2 separate regions of the Homo sapiens genome follow, and region 2 is linked to region 1. The links come from fine-mapping of genetic effects on gene expression. A gene starts in region 1. The other region holds a variant in brackets. All regions are shown on one strand. Distances are from middle to middle.

Region 1 (5,369 bases):
GAGATTAAGGTCTCACTCTGCTGACCAAGCTGGTCTCAAACTCCTGAGCTCAAGGAGTTTGCCTTGACCTCCCAAAGTGCTGGGATTACAGGTGTGAGCCACCACGCCCAGCAGACATTTTTCTCTTGTGCCTGGGTTTATGGTGATTGTATACATGTGTGTCTGGCTCCCAGAGGGTGGGGACGGAGTGATACAAATTTTTGTGCCTCCACAGGGAACTTGCACGTGACCTAAATTCAATGACAAATTGGGGTTTGATTGAAAATGTGGAGGGGTGGAAATTTTCAATTCCACTGACCCCAGATGGGAGGATCTGAGCCCCTTTCCTTTAAACACCATCTTTCTCTGCAGCAGCTTTCAGGGCCAATAGTTACCATCACCAGGAATTCCAGACCAGCACAATAAATAGGGGCTGTGGTTTCTCCCTCTTTCTCCTTCAAAAAGTAACAGAAAAAAAATTAGCCGGGCATGGTTGCATGTTCTTGTTGTCCAAGCTACTGAGGAGGCTAAGGTGGGAGGATCACTTGAGCCCGGGAGGTCGAGGCTTCAGGGAGCCATGATCATACCATTGCACTCCAGCCTGGGCAACAGAGTGAGACCCTGTCTCGGAAAAAACAAAAAAACAGTAATGGAATATGGGCCAGGTATGTTGATTTGAACTGGAGTTTTACTGCTTCCCAGCAGTGTGACATTGAGCAAGTGTGGTAACCTCTACGAGCCAAATGGAGCTGGCATCAGCTGCCTCACCAAACAGGATTTACGGGAAAGGCTGGCGTGGAGCTGGGGCCCTGGGAGGCAGGTAGTTAGAATCCGTTTAAAGATTTTGCCTCAATTGCCTCCAGCTGCTGCTGTGCTTACAAGGCACACAAGTGCTCCCCCTCTGATCCCTCAGCAGGCAAAGACCAGACTCTGGAACACACCTACAGTGCTGCCTCTGGCCAGGCCTCTGAGATATGAGTCCAACATGCAGAGAAAGGGGCAAGTCCTTGGTGGGGGGAGGGGGACAGCAATTTCATTACCGCCATTTCAGAGGTGGCAGTATGGGTGGCTGACATACGTAAGTCTGATTGTTTGGACCAGAAGGATCTTCAGGGGTCCAGTCTTCCAGTTTACAGGTGTGGACATTGAGATCCAGGCACCTGATAATACCAGGTTGGCAGGAAAGTCAAATGCCAGAGGCTTCCATGGTCTCTACTTGTGTTTGGAGCAACAGAATTCTGAACAGAGTCAAAGGGATAAGGGGTCTTTCTGGCACAAGCTGGCCCAAGACCAGGCCTTTGACAGAGGCCTCAGACTCTGGGGGGCCCAAAAGCAGCCCTCCCTTGGGCTCAGCCTTCTGGATCCCATGGCCAGAGTAGTAGTTCTGCCGGCTAGGACTTGGTGAGGGGAGCTTTGAAGTCACTAGTTGAAGGTCACCTTCCTGGTCCAGCTCCACCTGGCAATGTTGACTGTGAGGTAGTGGAGGGGAGGGCTGAGAACACAGAAGAGAAAGGTTGCTCCTATTTGGAGTGAATTAGCGTGACTGGGAAAGCAGAGAAGGGAAAGAGGTCAGGTTTTTCCAAATAAAACCCAGCCCTCAGCTGGTGTCTTAGTTTAAGAAAACAGATGAAGAGAGAAACTTTGTTTGTGGCAGAATCAATTACAACTGTCTTTTGTGGCCAGGTGCAGTGGCTCACACCTGTAATCCCAGTGCTTTGCGAGGCCGAGGCGGGAGGATCATTTAAGCTTAGGAGCTGGAGACCAGCCTGGGCAACATAGTGAGATCCCCCCATCTCTATTTTTAATTAAAACAAACAAACAAACCCATCTTTTATATGCAAACAGGCAAAAATGGAACTGTTTCTACTGTGGCTGTTTGACTACTCTAGGGTCTCAGAAAACAACACCCCAAAATGCAGGCCTCAGGAGCAGCTCTCTCTGACCCTCTCCCTCCCTCCTGTCTTTGGCCCCTCACTCTCCTCCGAGGCCAGCCATAGAAACTGGAATCCTTCTTCCTCAAGGCAGGTCATAGAAACCAGAGCCCTTCTCCCCCAAAGCCAGACATCGAACCCAAAAATATTACTCTTTCTCCCACACATTTCTGGGTAAAAACTGGCCATAAATTATCTGACCTACCTTGTTTGCTTGCAGGTCCTAAGACCCCTCCATCCCAGAGAGAGTCCTGCCCCGTACTCAGAAGGAAGGAATGCTGCAGAGAAAGGTCAAGAAGAATCTACACGGACAGGACTTGCTGGGTTTCCCCACTCAGGTTATTGGCCTTCTGGTCCAATCATATTTCTTTTTTCGTGGTTTTTTTTTTTTTTTTTTGAGACGGAGTCTCACTCTGTTGCCCAGGCTGGAGTGCAGTGGCATGATCTCAGCTCACTGCAATCTCTGCCTCTCAGGTTCAAGTGATTCTCCCGCCTCAGCCTCCTGAGTAGCTGGGATTACAGGCGCGCGCCACCATGCCCGATCAATTTTTGTATTTTTAGTAGAGACAGGGGTTTCATTATGTTAGCCAGCCTGGTCTCGAACTCCTGACTTCAAGTGATCCGCCTGCCTCGACCTCCCAAAAGTTCTAGGATTACAGACGTGAGCCACCGCGCCCGGCCCAAAGTGAGATTTCAACTCTCTCTACACCAGCTGGACCTGACAGCGGACTCGCGGAGGCGCAGACGCCGCCGGCGGTCTTAGCTCAAGAATGAAGCAGCCGCACTGGGCTAATGCGCCTTTGGGTTCAGCCCGGCAGGCGAGGGAAGCAAGAGTTCGCTCAGATTGGCTTTTGGGTTTAAGCTAAAGCGTCAGAAACTGACATCCAGGTTTACATGGGGCATCCTGGAGAGGGTCAGCCTCGCAAGCGGCTCTGCTAATCCCCCAGCCCTGATCCCGCTCGCGGGTCCCGGTGGGTCTCACGCCTGTAGCTCCTGCGGAGCTGGGCTTTCAGCGGCGCCCAGAGAAGCACCAGCCGGGCCTGGCCGCCGGGTCCCGGCTCCCGCGGGACGCTGGAGGCGTCGGCGGCCCTGGCCCCGCCTCCTCCCCGGCAAGGCCCAATGGGGCGGCAGGCCCGGCAGCCCCGCCCCGGTGGTGCCCGCGCGGCCAGCGCCCGCCAGGCCCAGCGTTAGCCCGCGGCCAGGCAGCCGGGAGGAGCGGCGCGCGCTCGGACCTCTCCCGCCCTGCTCGTTCGCTCTCCAGCTTGGGATGGCCGGCTACCTGCGGGTCGTGCGCTCGCTCTGCAGAGCCTCAGGCTCGCGGCCGGCCTGGGCGCCGGCGGCCCTGACAGCCCCCACCTCGCAAGAGCAGCCGCGGCGCCACTGTGAGTGCCGCGCGGAGGGTCCAGGCAGGCGCGCGCCCCCAGCTGCGACGTGGCGGCTTCCCAGGCTGGGGCCGGGAAGCACGTCCCGCCAGCCCGCAGCCCGGGGACGGCGGGGTCAGGCGCACAAAGGGCCGCGGGGCAGCTTCGCTCCGCGCTCCCCCGCCCGGCGCTTCCCGGCCGTGCCAGGCGCTGGGGTGGGGACTTGAGGGACGGTGGCAACTGGTGGCCCGGGCGACGGCCAGCTCTGCGCGGGCGGGGGCTCGGGGCTGCCGCGCGCCCCTAGGTATTTCGGGAGGGGGTCCTGAGAGTGTCCCGGACCCGAAGGGTGGCCTGCCCGCCCTGCGCCCCTGGAACGAGACGAGCACCCGTGGGGGGCTGGAGCACCCCGCGCGCTCCCCTGGCGAGAGGGAGGGTCGTGGCTCGGCCCCTGCTCAGACAAAGGCTGGGAGGCGGGAGACATGCACTTCCCCTTCCTTTTCAGCCAGGCGCGCGCTGATACCAGGCCCACGTCAGCTATTTTTGGAGCCTTTTACACGACAGCTGGAGGAGCGTCCTTTTTAATTTTCCCCTTTTGTTTGGCCGCCCCCACCCCCACCCCTTCGCCTTCATCGCTGCACTTGAGGCTCCATCCTGGGGCCTCTCCTTGACTTGACCTGCCTTGGCAGGCACATGCCCTCCCTGCCTGGCTCACTCGCCGCAGAGACCTGGCAGCCCGCGCAAAATGTCACTTTGCGGAATCGTTCCCACGGCTTCTGGGTACCCTTAGTTCCCTGCTTAGGAGGGAAGACAGTAGTCGGGTCGTAATAAGCAAGACTTAGCCCGAGCCTCCGTTGCCAACGCAGGCTGCCTTGCTTGGCGTGTGGGCATCGGCCTGCCCCCTCACCCTGGCTACCCAACACAGCTACAAAAGGCAGGGAACAATGTAGGTCCCTTGGCCCTGCCTAATGCCTGTTGCCATGGAAACCCCTATCCTAATCTGGCCAGGAGCCCCTTGCAGTGAGCCAGGAGAGTGAGGAAGAGGGGATGGGGCCCGCTGGCCCTGACCTGGCCAGAGGAGGTAATGGTTAACCGGATTGTGGGAGCAGCTGACTAGAGCCGGGGGGGTAGGGAGGCTTGGGCCCCAGTCCTACCTTCCCTGCCAAGGAGAAAGGGGCATGTCTGCTTTTGTACCTCTGGGAATCTACCTCAGGGATCTGCCCAACAACTCCCAGGTTCCAAGTGCCCCAGGACCCAAAGATTCCCATATAGCACACCACCTTCAGCAAAAATATGGTGGAAGTTAGCCACATTCTTTAATTCTCCCTTTTTTTCTGCCTTGATGGTAAAAAAAAAAAAAAGAAACAAACAACCCGAAAAACACACACAAACAGGAACACAAAGCGCCTTTTAAGGGTCCTGAATTTGGATACAGAAAAAGCAGTCAGTTGCAGGCCCTTCTAGAAGTCCCCATGTGGGTTGGTTATGAATGGGGAAATTGCTTGGTGTTGGAGTTGGACATCAGACTCTACAGTTGCGACTCTGCCAGCTTGTTACCTGGCAACGCAGCTGGAGACAGAATACTTGGCATTCCCCTTGATGACAAGGAAAGAATATTTTGGGGCTAAAAGAGCCCCGTGTCTTTGCTGCCTGGTAATTCCTGCACGCATCTTTTCCTATTTTGCAACGCCATAGGCTTCCAGCGACTGCTGGTGATGTTTCTGGTAAGTTAGAGCTTGGGGCAGTGCGGACCAGTTCTGTGAACGGCTCAGTGGCAGAATTACTTATCTAGCCTTCCTTCACTCCTAACCCAGAAACTTCTTAATTCTTGCCCCTTAAGTGTGCAGATCTTTCTGCCACGTCAGATAAGGCCCTAGCTGCCCTGCCAGAGCTGATTGGGGTGGTTGTGTTTAGGCCTAGTAGGTACTGAGGAAAAGCCTCTTTGGAATGGCTGAGGCCTGCTCCCACATCTTCTGTGTGAAGTTGAGGGCCCTTGGGCTGGTTCCATTCAGGGTATGAGGTGCTGGAAACTGCTCTCAGATTACTGGAAGCCAGGGTCTGTGGCCTTCCCTGGGGTTTATACTCTGTAAACCCATGTTAA
Region 2 (5,369 bases), 24 kb before region 1:
AATTCCCCTGCCTCAGTTTCCCGAGTAGCTGGGACTACAGGCATGCACCACCACTCCTGGCTAATTTATTTTATTTTATTTTAGTAGAGATGGGGTTTCACCATGTTGGCCGGGGTAGTCTTGATCTCCTGACCTTGTGATCTCCCCGCCTTGGCGTCCCAAAGTGCTGGGATTACAGGCGTGAGCCACCGCGCCCTGCCGAAACTGTGTTTTTTAAAAAACAAAAACAAAAACAAAAAGCTAAAACTAAAACCCAAATCCCAAAAGCCCTTCTTCCACCTAGTGTCTCTCTCCGTCTTTCTCCTTCTTGGAAGGGAAGTCTACACTGGCTGGCCCTACTTTGTGACCTCCCTGCCTTTCCTCCACCCACCTATGGGGTCTCCTGCCTTCCCTGCTACAGCCTCCTCACCCACTGGCAAAGAAATGAAGAAACAGACCCTGCCTGGCTCACTGATGGCCTCTTGATTGCCAGATCCCTGGGACACCTTCCGGTGCTCGTTGACTTGTCCACTTCGGAGCTTCCCCCGCACAGTCATCCCCTGGACACCTCTCTCCTGGGACATCTTGCACTTTGTGGGACAGCACCTTCTCTGTCTCCTCTTAGGGGCTCTTAGGTCCTTGTGTCCTCCAGGGTCTTGTCAACGATCCGTCCTCATAGCACACTCTCTCCTTCAGCAAACTTATCAGACTCATGGCTTCTACTACTGCCTCTGTGCTGAGAATGTTTAGTAATAAGCAACATGTCAAAGATGCAAAATAATCACGTGTGGAACAAGGATACTGTGTAAAGAAAGACAGTTGAAGGAAAAAGAAAAAACACTGATAGGCCGGGTGCAGTGGCTCCCACCTGTAATCGCAGTACTTTGGGGGTCTGAGGTGGGCCGATCACAAGGTCAGGAGTTTGAGACCAGCCTGGCCAACATGGTGAAACCCCATCTCTACTAAAAATACAAAAAAAAAAAAAATAGCTGGGTGTGGTGGTGTGTGCCTGTAATCCCAGCCACTTAGCAGGCTGAGGCAGGAGAACCGCTTGAACCTGGGAGGTGGAGATTGCAGTGAGTCAAGATCGCGACGCGGCACTCCAGCCTGGGCAACAAAAGAGCGAAAATTCCATCTAAAAAAAAAAAAAAAGGGCCAGGCACGGTGGCTCATGCCTGTAATCCCAACACTTTGGGATGCCAAGGTAGGTAGATCACCTGAGGTTGAGGTCAGGAGTTTGAGACCAGCCTGGCCAACATGGTGAAACTCTGTCTCTACTAAAAATACAAAAATTTGGCCGGGCGCGGTGGCTGACCTGTAATCCCAGCACTTTGAAAGGCCGAGGCGGGCGGAACATGAGGTCAGGAGATCAAGACCATCCTGGCTAACGCGGTGAAATCCCGTCTCTACTAAAAATACAAAAAATTAGCCAGGCGTGGTGGCGGGCACCTGTAGTCCCAGCTACTTGGGAGGCTGAGGCAGGAGAATGGCGTGAACCTGGGAGGAGGAGCTTGCAGGGAGCCAAGATCACACCACTGCACTCCAGCCTGGGCAACAGAGCGAGACTGTGTCTCAAAATAAAATAAAATAAAATAAAAATACAAAAATTTGTTGGGCATGGTAGCGGGTGCCTATAATTCCAGCTACTTGAGAGGCTGAGGCAGGAGAATCACTTGAATCTGGGAGGTGGAGGTTGCAGTGAGCTAAGATTGCACCATTGCACTCCAGCCTGGGCAACAGGAGCAAAACTCCATCTCAAAAAAAAAAAAAAAAAAAGTAAAAGAAAAAACACTGATTAAGACACTTGGGTTCCCCAGACAGTCCTTCTATATGACTGTGGGCAAGTTAACATACCACCCCAAGTCTTGGACTTCTCATCTACAGAACTGGGATAAAAATAGTACCTACTTCATAGGGTTGTTATGAGGATTAAATAGGATAATTCTAGAGCAAGCACTCCGTGCGTGAAGTTGCCAACATTATTTATGACTGTCTCTGTTGTCACTTGCAGGGGTAGAGAAGCAATGGGCAGAAGTGAGATGAAACTAAGAAATGGTAGTTTGGATCCAGGTTTTGAAATACACGAGGGCAGTGGACTTCTAGGGTCTGTTGGCCAAGGCATTCCTAATTAGAGAATGCAAGTATCAAGGGGCTGTGAGCCTAGGAGCAGGCAGCCCCTTCCTAAGGCTGCTGCTCTCTTTCTAGCCATCTGGACGACCTTGTGAGCACCTGACAGGGTGCATTCGGCAAGTGGCTGGCCAGCAAGTGGCTGGCCAGGATGCCCTACGTGCACGTCCCGGCATTCCTGAAATAGCCGCCCTGCAGTGGGGGGAG[G/A]TGCTGGTGGATGAGAATGTTAAACAGCTTGGAGCCTGGAAGGGAAAAGGTCACCTCTGGGGCTGTGTCCTCCAGGAGGGGGACACAATTGCCAGAGGAAGGAGTCCCTAAGAAGGATATTGAAGCTGCCCTAAGCTCTTGTGCAGTTGCCACGTCCTGGGCTATACTCCACAAGATCCAAAAGGAGACATGGGGTGGCTGGAGTGGTGTCTGGAGCCAGCTTGTACAGGCTCATGAGAGCCAACTGTTAAATTCTCAAGAATTTTGCAAGCCAGTTGTTACACATAGCCATTATTAAAAATTAAGTTATATAAACTTATGATTATATTAAAAGACTCAAACTCATCACTTTCTAATTATTTTACTATATTTTACTAGTATCTATGCATTTGAGGACATTTATGTCTGTTGCATCTATATGGTGGAAATATTATAGATGGAAATATACAACTCTGTTCAGTGATGCTGTGTTGGTAGTTTGAAATTGGCCATGGTGGAAATATTTACACTACCGAAATCAGCAAATGCTACAAGTTAGCAAACACACACACACACATACACACACACACACCCCCCGCACTGGAGCTGGTTGTTAAACATTTGCCAGCACCTCATTGGACAAACTGATTTCTTTCTTTTTTTTTCCCCCGAGACGGAATCTTGCTCTGTCACCCAGGCTGGAGGGCAGTGGAGCCTTTTTGGCTCAGTGCAACCTCCGCCTCCTGGGTTCAAGTGATTCTCTTGCCTTAGCCTACCAAGTAGCTGGGATTACAGGCACGTGCCACCATCCCTGGCTAATTTTTGTATTTTTTAATAGAGATGGGGTTTCACCATGTTGGCCAGGCTGGTCTTGAACTCCTGACCTCATGTGATCCACCAACCCTGGCCTTGCAAAGTGCTGGGATTACAGGCGTGAGCCACTGCACCTGGCCCAAACAAACTGATTTCTAGGAAGTTTGTTGTTAGCCATTTCTTGTGAGTTTCAGTATTAGCCATCTGCCCCACATGAACAGCGCCTGAGTTCCACTGCAGTTTTTTGGGTCTCCCTAACCCAATATCTGAGTGAGCTACCTTACACGTCCCGATCTCACTAGTCCTACCCCAGCCAGAGATGAGAATGATGGTGGCCATTATTCATCACTTATCACATGTTGCGTCCATCTTCAGTTGAGTTTTGTTTTTTGTTTTTTGTTTTTTTTGAGACACAATTGTATTCTGCCGCCCAGGCTGGACTGCAGTGCAGTTGTGCAGTCTCAGCTCACTGCAACCTCCACCTCCCAAGTTCAAGCAATTTTCCTGCCTCAGCCTCCCCAGTAGCTGGGATTACAGGCACATGGCACCATGCCAGGCTAATTTTAGTATTTTTAGTAGAGAAGGTTTCACCATGTTGGCCAGGCTGGTCTTGAACTGCCGAGCTCAAGTGATCCACCCTCCTTGGCCTCCCAAAGTGCTGGGATTATAGGCATGAGCCACCACACCCAGCCAGCTGAGTACTATTTATTTATTACTATTATTTTTTGAGACGGAGTTTCGCTCTTGTTGCCCAGGCTGGAGTGCAATGGTGCTATCTCAGCTCACTGCAACCTCCACCTCCTGGGTTCAAGCAATTCTTCTGCCTCAGCCTCCCGAATAGCTGGGATTACAGGTGTGCATCACTACGCTTGGCTAATTTTTGTATTTTTAGTAGAGACGGGGTTTCACCATGTTGGCCATGCTGGTCTTAAACTACTGACTTCAGGTGATCTACCCGTCTTGGCCTCCCAAAGTGCTGGGATTACAGGCATGAACCACCGCACCCAGCCAGCTGAGTATATTTTAACCAGCACATTACTATGAGGTTGGTACTAAGCTGTTACTCTACCCATTTTACAGATGATGATAAAGTGAGCCACGGAGAAGTCTGGAAACTCTCCCAAGGCAACCAGCTAGGACAAGGTTGGAGGCCTCACTTAATCACTAGCTCTACTGATAAACAATAATCTGATCATCTGATAAGGGAATTTAATTAAGTGGTTCAATTGCCACTCCTTCATGCTGCCAACCCTGACTACAGCTTTTAAACACCACAGGGCATTGTTTCATGTAGTTTTATTGTTCTTAGTCACAGTAGATAAAACTGTGGACTCTCAAAATGTGACCTATCCTAGGTCTTTAGGAGACTTTTATGAGTAAATAAGACTGTTCTAGAGTTAATGATCCACTATTTCAGTTGATGTAGGGCTTCTAACTCAATCAATTAGGGGTTGAGATCCAACTATGAAACTAACTCAGTTCAAGACCTGGCCATCTCCCATAAGAGCTAAAGCCTAGAGAGTAAAATTATTGTCAAAAGTTACATAGTTCAGCCACGTGCGGTGGCTCATGCCTGTAATCCCAGCACTTTGGGAGGCTGAGGCGGGCAGATCACCTGAGGTCAAGAGTTAGAGAACAGCCTGACCAACACGGAGATACCTTGTCTCTCCTAAAAATGCAAAATTAGCCAAGCGTGGTGGTGCATGCCTGTAATCCCAGCTACTCAGGAGGCTGAGGCAGGAAATCGCTTGAACCTGGGAGGCGGAGGTTGTGGTGAGCCGAGATCGCGCCATTGCACTCCAGCCTGGGCAACAAGAGTGAAACTCCGTCTCAAAAAAAAAGGTAAAAGTTACATAGTTCCTAAGAGGTGAGGACAGAATATTAACCTGACTGATTCCAGAGCCCCTGCTCCAGTGAGAGGAATATAATGGACTATTAGGCTGCTAGTAAAAAAACAAAACAAAACAAAACAAAACCTTGGGAGAAATGATAGTCAAAGGGTACAAATCCTCAATTAGACAGGAGGAATAAGTTTTTTTCTTTGAGATATATTGCACAGCATGGTGAATATAGTAAATAATAATGTGCTGTACATTTCAAAGTCACTAAGTGTAAATCTCAAATGTTCTCACTACAAAAATTATAAGAATTTGAGGTAACAGATATGTTAATTAGCTTGATTTAATTTTTCTACATTGTATTCATAAATCATAACATCACTTTGGTTTTTGTTTTTTTTTTTTAAGAGATGGGGGTTTCACAAT

Which allele goes with the higher level. Positions count from the first base shown, and alleles are read on the strand shown. Sizes are in standard deviations (SD) of each study's normalised expression.
For the expression in left ventricle of the gene that starts at base 3,100 in region 1, A is the low allele of the variant in region 2 and G is the other (small effect, 0.22 SD a copy in GTEx).

The links. PIP is the estimated chance that this variant, and not a neighbour inherited with it, causes the effect. A credible set is the group of variants that fine-mapping cannot tell apart.
Region 2: its variant is the best candidate, but not a certain one, in a credible set for the expression of IDH2 in left ventricle (GTEx, PIP 0.53).

The regions. Positions count from the first base shown.
Region 1 is chr15:90,100,199-90,105,567 of GRCh38, reverse strand. It overlaps IDH2 (isocitrate dehydrogenase (NADP(+)) 2), which reads left to right and starts at 3,100. Exons shown (of 11, transcript NM_002168.4): 1 at 3,100-3,292. The coding sequence starts at 3,178. IDH2-DT (IDH2 divergent transcript) reads right to left here and starts at 3,436. Exons shown (of 3, transcript NR_149130.1): 1 at 3,190-3,436; 2 at 2,116-2,188. RefSeq lists silencers at 2,890-3,349, 3,670-3,739, 4,230-4,319, 4,380-4,429 and enhancers at 2,964-3,818, 3,819-4,674.
Region 2 is chr15:90,123,770-90,129,138 of GRCh38, reverse strand. All of the region lies in intron 2 of IDH2-DT (IDH2 divergent transcript), which reads right to left. Among named protein-coding and RNA genes, the nearest start is that of IDH2, 24 kb to the right of the region's middle. The variant G/A (reference allele first, on the strand shown) is at 2,314.